Linked DNA regions of Homo sapiens. The protein of the gene in region 1 purifies or fractionates together with the protein of each later gene. This does not show direct contact. Each region holds a gene or a part of one and is shown in the gene's direction. Other genes may lie near its edges. The genes, in order: MPC2 and ARMC6.

What was found.
Region 2: the proteins of MPC2 (region 1) and ARMC6 purify together in Homo sapiens (co-immunoprecipitation; one large-scale study listed by IntAct). This does not show direct contact.

What each region holds. Positions count from the first base shown.
Region 1 is NC_000001.11:167,919,947-167,923,772, reverse strand, and holds part of MPC2 (mitochondrial pyruvate carrier 2), read left to right. Parts: intron 1-3,141; coding exon 3,142-3,226; intron 3,227-3,682; coding exon 3,683-3,794; intron 3,795-3,826. UniProt on the Homo sapiens protein: Mediates the uptake of pyruvate into mitochondria.
Region 2 is NC_000019.10:19,039,975-19,043,800, forward strand, and holds part of ARMC6 (armadillo repeat-containing protein 6), read left to right. Parts: intron 1-2,711; exon of another isoform or gene 2,712-2,736; coding exon 2,737-2,903; intron 2,904-3,826.

The sequences.
Region 1 (3,826 bases):
TAACCTCTTCGGATGATTCTCTAATGCCCTCTAAAGTTTGAAAACCACTGGTCTGTAGGCTTTTTTTTTTTTAATGTGGTAAAATACATATAAAACTTACTATCTGAACCATTTTCAAAGTGTACAGTTCAGTAGCGTTAAGTACATTTACATCATTGTTAACCAATCTCCAGAACCCTTTTTATCTTGTAAAAGCAAGTCTCTGTACCCATAATTCCCCATTCTCCTTCTCCCAGTCCCTGGCAACCACCATTCTACCTTCTGTCTCTATGAATTTCACTACTCTAAGTACCTCATGTAAATGGAATCAAAATGTATTTGTCTTTTTGTAGTTGGCTTATTTCCCCTAGCATAATGTCCACAAGGTACATTAACGTTGTCACATGTGTCACTTTCCTTTCTTTTTAATGCTGAATAGCATTCCATTGTATGTATTTACCACATTTTGTTTATTCTTCTATATGTTGATTGGACAATTGGTTTGCTTCCACATTTTTGCTGTTGTGAATAATGCTACCATGAACATTGATGTACAAGAATCTGTTTAAGTCAATACTTTTAATTCTTCTTAGTATACACCCAGAAGTTGAATTGCTAGATCATATGATAATTCTGCTTAATATTTTTTGTTTTCCTCAGCAACTACATTATTTTACATTTCTACCAGCAATTCATAAGTGTTCTAATTTCTCCACATCCTCACCAACACTTGTTACTTTTGATGGGGGAGCATTTTTGTTTTTGTTTTTATGATAGGCACCTAATGGGTGTTAGATATCTTTGTTTTTATTTGCACTTCCCTAATGATTAGTCATGCTGAACATATACTTATTGTACTTATTGGTCAGTTGTGTATATTCTTTGGAGAAATATTTATTCAAGTCCTTTGCCTGTTTTTTAATTTAATCAAGGTGTTTTTTGTTGTTGTTGAGTGATGGGCTGTTGTAATTCTCTTAAATGTACTTTTAAAATGGTTAGAACAATTCAGAAACTCAGTTGTAAATTCAAGTGGTTGAGAATGTTAGAGTTGGAATTGGCTATGACTCAATCTTATGGCCTTGGGCAAGTTTAGTCTCTTTGTCATTTTGTCTCTTCAACTATAAAGTGACAAGATTAGAATATAAGTCATTCGGGAGCTGTATTTTACAGAGATCTAGGGAGCAGGTTTTTTTTTTCATATCTACATATTGAGAAAAGATCCTAAAACCCCCTATACTAATGGAAGTTACATTACCATTTCCTTCTTCTCTCCCTACCTACACTTAAAATTACATAGTAATAATATATCTTTATAGTGGAATTGATTGCTGAAGTATTCAATCATTAAAAGAGTTTGAGTGATTTCATCTATTCACAATAAATTTAGGGGCCTCTTTGATCTCAAATTTACCACAGTTTAGGAGTTTATTGATTTTATCAATAGCTTTGGGGTTTATTTGAACTGGTTCATTACTGTTGTGAGATATTGACAGCATTATATACTCATAAATGCCTTCTTGACTATCTGTCTCTTTAAGAACATCTATTTTAAGTACATGTTGAAATCATACATAGTCTCCAGATGACAGCATAGCAATAGAAACTTCTGTGTTTTGTTCTCTGGTGGGGAGACTTCTTCTATTAGATACTTACCTTATATACCTCTTACTGTGTTTTACTATCCCAGAGTATTTGATAATTAATCTGTAGAATTCTATACATGACACATAACAGTTGCTTCTGCAAGCCACATATGTTCTATAACATGAAGACTCTCAGACCATATGCCTTCAAACATATAACTGTAGTAGAGTCCTTTGTAACCACTTTAGTTGAAACCACATAACTAATCATAAAGGTCAAAGTGGATAATCCTAAAAACAAAAACCTATGTACCTTAAATATTTTATTTTAACCTAAAGGATATAAATATATATTCATTGACAATCAGTCTTTTTTAAAGCTAAATCTTTTATTTGTGTATGGATTTCTGAGCTCCACATTTTCTATCCTGGATAAATTACACTACAGTGCATCCTATATAATTTCCAGCTTAGTTTTTTTAAAAAAAAACAATTTATTAAATCATGTAAATTACATTAACAAGTAAAACTGGCATAAATAGATTGGGGACAAACATAGTGACTTGGTAAAAATACAGCTCATCTGGTGGGAGCAAAAACGCATGAGTGCAATAGAGACAGTGTTAAAAACACAGAAGAGAAATGGCCATGTATATGCTGATGTTAAAGAAAAATGGCGTAACAGCCAAGGCCGGGCATGGTGGCTCACACCTGTAATCCCAGCACTTTGGGAGGTTGAGGCGGGCGGATCACCTGCGGTCAGGAGTTTGAGACCAGCCTGGCCAACATGGTGAAACCCCGTCTCTATTAAAAATACAAAAATTAGCCAGGCATATTGGCACACGCCTGTAATTCCAGCTACTTGGGGGCTGAGGCATGAGAATTGCTTGAAACTGGGAGGTGGAGGTTGCAGTGAGCCTAGATCGCACCATTGCTCTCTAACCTGGGTGACAGAGTGAGACTGTCTAAAAAAAAAAAAATGATCTAACCAAAAAACTAAAATTATAAGTTTTTCTGATATTTATACTTTTAAAAAATAATTCATTAGAAGCCCAAACCTCAGCATCACACAATATACCCATGTAACAAACCTGCACATATACCCCAAATCTAAAATTTAATTTAATTTAAAAATGATAACATTGGCAGAAAACATCAAAGGAAGAATCTATACAAATGACCTTAACAGCTTTTAGGTATCTTCCATGCTAGTGGTTAGTGGTTCCTGACATATATAAAGAGTATATAAATTCATATGTGAAATAGGTAGACCAAAAAAAACCCAAAATATATATGTACGTGTAATGCATACATATACATCTTATCTATATATGTACTACTGACTTTCAGATATGTGAGACTGCTTAGTGTACCTAACAAAATAAAATTAGTTCAAAAAGCAGTTTTTTAATTCATTGTGCTTTTTTTTTGTTGTAATCTACATTTTCTTAATGAATGGACACTAAAATTATAGCTGCTAACTTACGGAAATCTCAAAAATGTCTTGTGCTTGATTTAAAGTTAAAACTATTACTCCACATTTGTGATACTTTTTTTCTTTCTATGCGTTAATGTGTAGGGGTTGGTGTGTGCTGGATTGGCTGATATGGCCAGACCTGCAGAAAAACTTAGCACAGCTCAATCTGCTGTTTTGATGGCTACAGGTAAATTAAATAAATATCTTCTGTGTTTCTTGTAGAACATAAATGATTTTTGTTTTCTTTTATATCAGTTTATTTAGTGGCTTAGTGTTTGAAATACACCCACACACAAAGGAATTAACAGTATTATGTCTAGGAAGTTATTAAGTTATGGATGGAGGAGTCACAGAAAGAATAAGTATCTGAATGGGCTTTTGCTTTTCAGGTTTTTGCCATGAACATATTTTTATAAGTGGGAAGAAAATTACAGTTAATAGTCACTTTAAAGATTCCTCTTTCATGTAAGAATTGAGTATTTTCTGTGACACTAAGTTACAGAAACATTGAAAATTCAGAGTATAGCATTTCTTTGTCCCTCATCCTACATTATTGTTGTAATTACTTTACTCAATATTAAGTATTCACTGAAGTTATTGAAGCAGTATGTATTCTTTTTAAAGTAACATTTTGTTTCAACAGGGTTTATTTGGTCAAGATACTCACTTGTAATTATTCCAAAAAATTGGAGTCTGTTTGCTGTTAATTTCTTTGTGGGGGCAGCAGGAGCCTCTCAGCTTTTTCGTATTTGGAGGTAAGCCTACCAGAGATATTTTTAAAACTGTT
Region 2 (3,826 bases), on another chromosome or scaffold:
TAACAAATTAAAATGAAATAAAATTACACACTCAGTTCCTCAGCCACACTGCCACACTTCAGCTGTGTGATAGCCACAGAGGCCAATGGCTTCTGTACTAGGCAGTGCAGATAGAGAACGTTTCATCATAGCAGGAAGTGCCCTGAATGCATGATCAGATTCGGGTTTGAGATTTTGGCACGATGACTTCACAGGTGCATTTTGTTCTTGTTCAGGAGGTAGGTGTTGCTGGTTTCTCTTGATGATGTGAGATCAAGCAGTAGACTGAGTTCCTGTCTACCCCTTGTTGGGCTCCCATCAGTTTTACACCTGATGGTTTTGGATCCTGTGGGATCATTATCTGTTTCTCTCCTGTCACAGCTGATCAGCTGGAATCGGAAGCAGAACTTTTCCTCATCCTCTTTTTATAACCTGGGACTCATTTGTACAAGGGAGGCAGGTTAAGTGCTAGGTTTTTTTTAAAAAAATTGTTACTAATTATTGTAGAGACAGTGTCTCGCTACGTTGGCCAGGCTGGTCTTGAACTCCTGGATTCAAGTGATCCTCCCATCTCAGCCTCCTGAGTAGTAGCTGGGAGTACAAGAGCATGCCACCACTCCCTGCCAAGAGCTGGATTCTTGGCCAGTTTTCAGAAGCCTGAGCTGTATTTGTTTTAGTATTATGAAAGCACAGAGTTTGACTTTTTTTTTTTTTTGCAACATCGTCTGACTGTCAGCCAGGCTGGAGTGCAATGGCATGATCTCGGCTCACTGCAACCTCCGCCTCTGTGCTCAAGTGGTTCTCCTACCTCGGTCTCCCTGATTGCTGGGATTACAGACGTGAGCCACCACACCTGGCCCAGATTTTGATTTTGATATGTACTGGATTTTTTTTTAATGCTCACTTGTCTCATCTGTAGCTACCAGGCATCCCTTAGGGTTTGGAAGCTTCCTTGCTTCCTGGTCTCACAAGACCCCAGCGTTACCTGCCCCATGACCTGCTGGGACTTGGAATCAGCCATTCCTCCAGAAGCCCTGGCTCCTTGTTTTTAAAGATTTTATGTAGAGACAGGGCCTCCCCATGTTGTCCAGGCTAGTGTTGAACTCCTGGCCTCAAGCCATCTTCCTGCCTCAGCCTCCCAAAGTGCTGGGATTACAGGAGTGAGCCACCTAGCCCTGGCCCCAGCTCCTTTTCGTGGGAAATGGTAGAAACCATACATGGTGTTAGAGGTATTCAGTGCTCCTGTGCTGTCATTTCTCCTAGGCATTTTTAGTTGCTATGACTAGAAAATTAGATCTTTGTTTACCTAAGAGAAAACACATGATGGGTTTATATGGATATTCCCATTTCATATATAGGAGTTCTGAGATTTTTTTTCTCAACTTTATCGAGGTATAGGATGTACTTTTTTTTGAGACGGAATCTTGCTCTGTTGCCCAGGCTGGTGTGCAGTGGTGCAATCTCGGCTCACTGCAACCTCTGCCTCCTGGGTTCAAATGATTCTCCTGCCTCAGCCTCCCGAGTGGCTGGGATCACAGGTGCCCGCCACCATGCCCGGTTAATTTTTGTATTTTTAGCAGAGATGGGATTTCACCATGCTGGCCAGGCTGGTCTTAAACTCCTGACCTCAGGTCATCCACCTGCCTCGGCCTCCCAAAGTGTTGGGATTACAGGCATGCGCCACTGCACCCAGCGAATTGTATTTAATATAGTGTATATCTTATACTATATATGGTACATAAATGATACAAATATATTGCATATGTTTACATTATACAACTTGACGATTTTATATGCATGCAGATTGTGAAATACTCACCTCAATCAACAGTTACCTTTTTCTTTTTTGTGGTGAGAACACTTAGAATCTACCCTCTTAGCAAATTTCAAGTATACCATACAATATTGTTAATTATAGGGAGTTCCGAGTTTTTAGTTGATAGTACGATGTTAGAATCTTTTTTTTTTCTTTTTGAGTCAGGGGCTTGCTCTGTTGCCCAGGTTGGAGTGCAGTGGCGCAATCTTGGCCTCCCAGGCTCAAGCGATCCTGCTACCTCAGCCTCCTGAGTAGTTGGGACTACAGGCATGTGCCACCACACTCAGCTAATTTTTATTTTTATTTTGGTAGAGACAGACTTTTGCCATGTTGTCCAGGCTGGTCTTGAACTCCTGGGCTCAAGCAATCCTCCTGCCTCAGCTTCCCAAAGTGTTGGGATTATAGGCATTGACCCACTGCGCCCAGCCAGAATCTTTTTTCTTTTATTCTGATTCCTAATAAGATAATCATTATTATTTGCTACATCCGTAATAGTTTCAGAATAACATTACTAGTATCATTATATTAAAGAACCACCTTTCTTAGATAAAATGTAGTAAACTCTGTGTTCTCTCCTACACTTTGTTTTTTTTTCCCAAGACAGGGTCTCACTCTGTGGCCCAGGCTGGAGTGTAGTAGTGTGATCATGGCTCACTGCAGCCTTGACCTCCCAGGCTCAAGTGATCCTCCCACCTCGGCCTCTCAGAGTGCCGGGATTACAGGCTAAGCCATCACACCCGGCCTCTTCTGTATTTGCAGAAGTTCTAGGGAAGTAGGGATATCACCCTTTCCTGTGATAACAGGTGGGAAGAATTTCTCCAGGGTGGTTGTAGGGCTCTGGTCGCTGGTAGATGCTTCCTAAGTGGCGTTTTCAAGGTGGCCAGGCCCTGCCATTGCCTGCTCACCCTTGAGGTAGCTCTCTCTTTGCCCTAACCTCTCAGCTCAGGAGCATCTATCGGCTGCACGCCAACATCAACACAGGCGAAGATGGTCTCCAAGCGCATTGCCCAGGAGACCTTTGATGCAGCTGTGCGCGAGAACATCGAGGAGTTTGCGATGGGGCCAGAGGAGGCAGTGAAAGAGGCCGTGGAGCAGTTTGAATCGCAAGGTAGGGTGGTGTGACTGTCACCTACCATCCTTGGCTCTTAGATGCAAGAGCAGTGGGAGAGCCCTGCTGCCCCGCCCCACTGGGGGTGCCACATGCCTGGCATAGAAACCAGGTGCCATTGGGCCCTGTCCCCTCCAGCTTCTGCCCGAGGCAGGCTGGTTATCCTGCTCCCACCTCTCACCTGCTTCCACCTCGCCCAGATATTTGTGGGCTGGATCCTTCTCATGAGTCTCATTTGATCACTTCCTTGAAGAGACTTTCCCTGACCCTGGCCTGGGAAACAGGGCCCCTGCCTCCCTGCCCTACTCTACCCTACCTCGAGCTTACAGAGGCAGAAGCAGCCTGTGGAAACAGGTGGCATGTTCAGACCAGGTGCAGATGAGTGTGGTTATGAGGGGCTGTTTGCAATGGTGTGGGTGGGGTTAGGAGACCACCCCTAGCACAACTAGCTCCGGCAGAGACCCTGACTGCAGGGAGCAGGAGTCCTGGGCAGGGGCCACATGATGGGTGCTGGGCCCTGGGGCAGAGGCAGGGGGCTGGGAATGAACACCCCACACTCCCCTCCTCCTGCCCCCATCTCAAGTTCACTTCCCCATTGAACAAACCCAGGGTACAGCCTGAGAGGTCAGAGGTCAGCCTCCTAGGCACAGAGTGGGGTATAGAACACTAGACAGGGGCCAGTGGGACAAGCAAAAGCGTCCAGCACTGTAGGGGCTCCCTGTGGGGGTGCCAGCAGGGGCAAGAATGCAGCCAGAGCCAGGAGGGATGGGAGCCCCAAGGGAGAAGGCTGTGGGGTCCCTCCCTCCCCCACCAAGCCCACCAGGCAGCATGTGGCACCTCACTGCACAGACGTGGCCTGTGATGACAGCCTTGTGTGACAACGGCCTCACTACCACTCTGCTCCCTTTGGCCCACGGACCAGT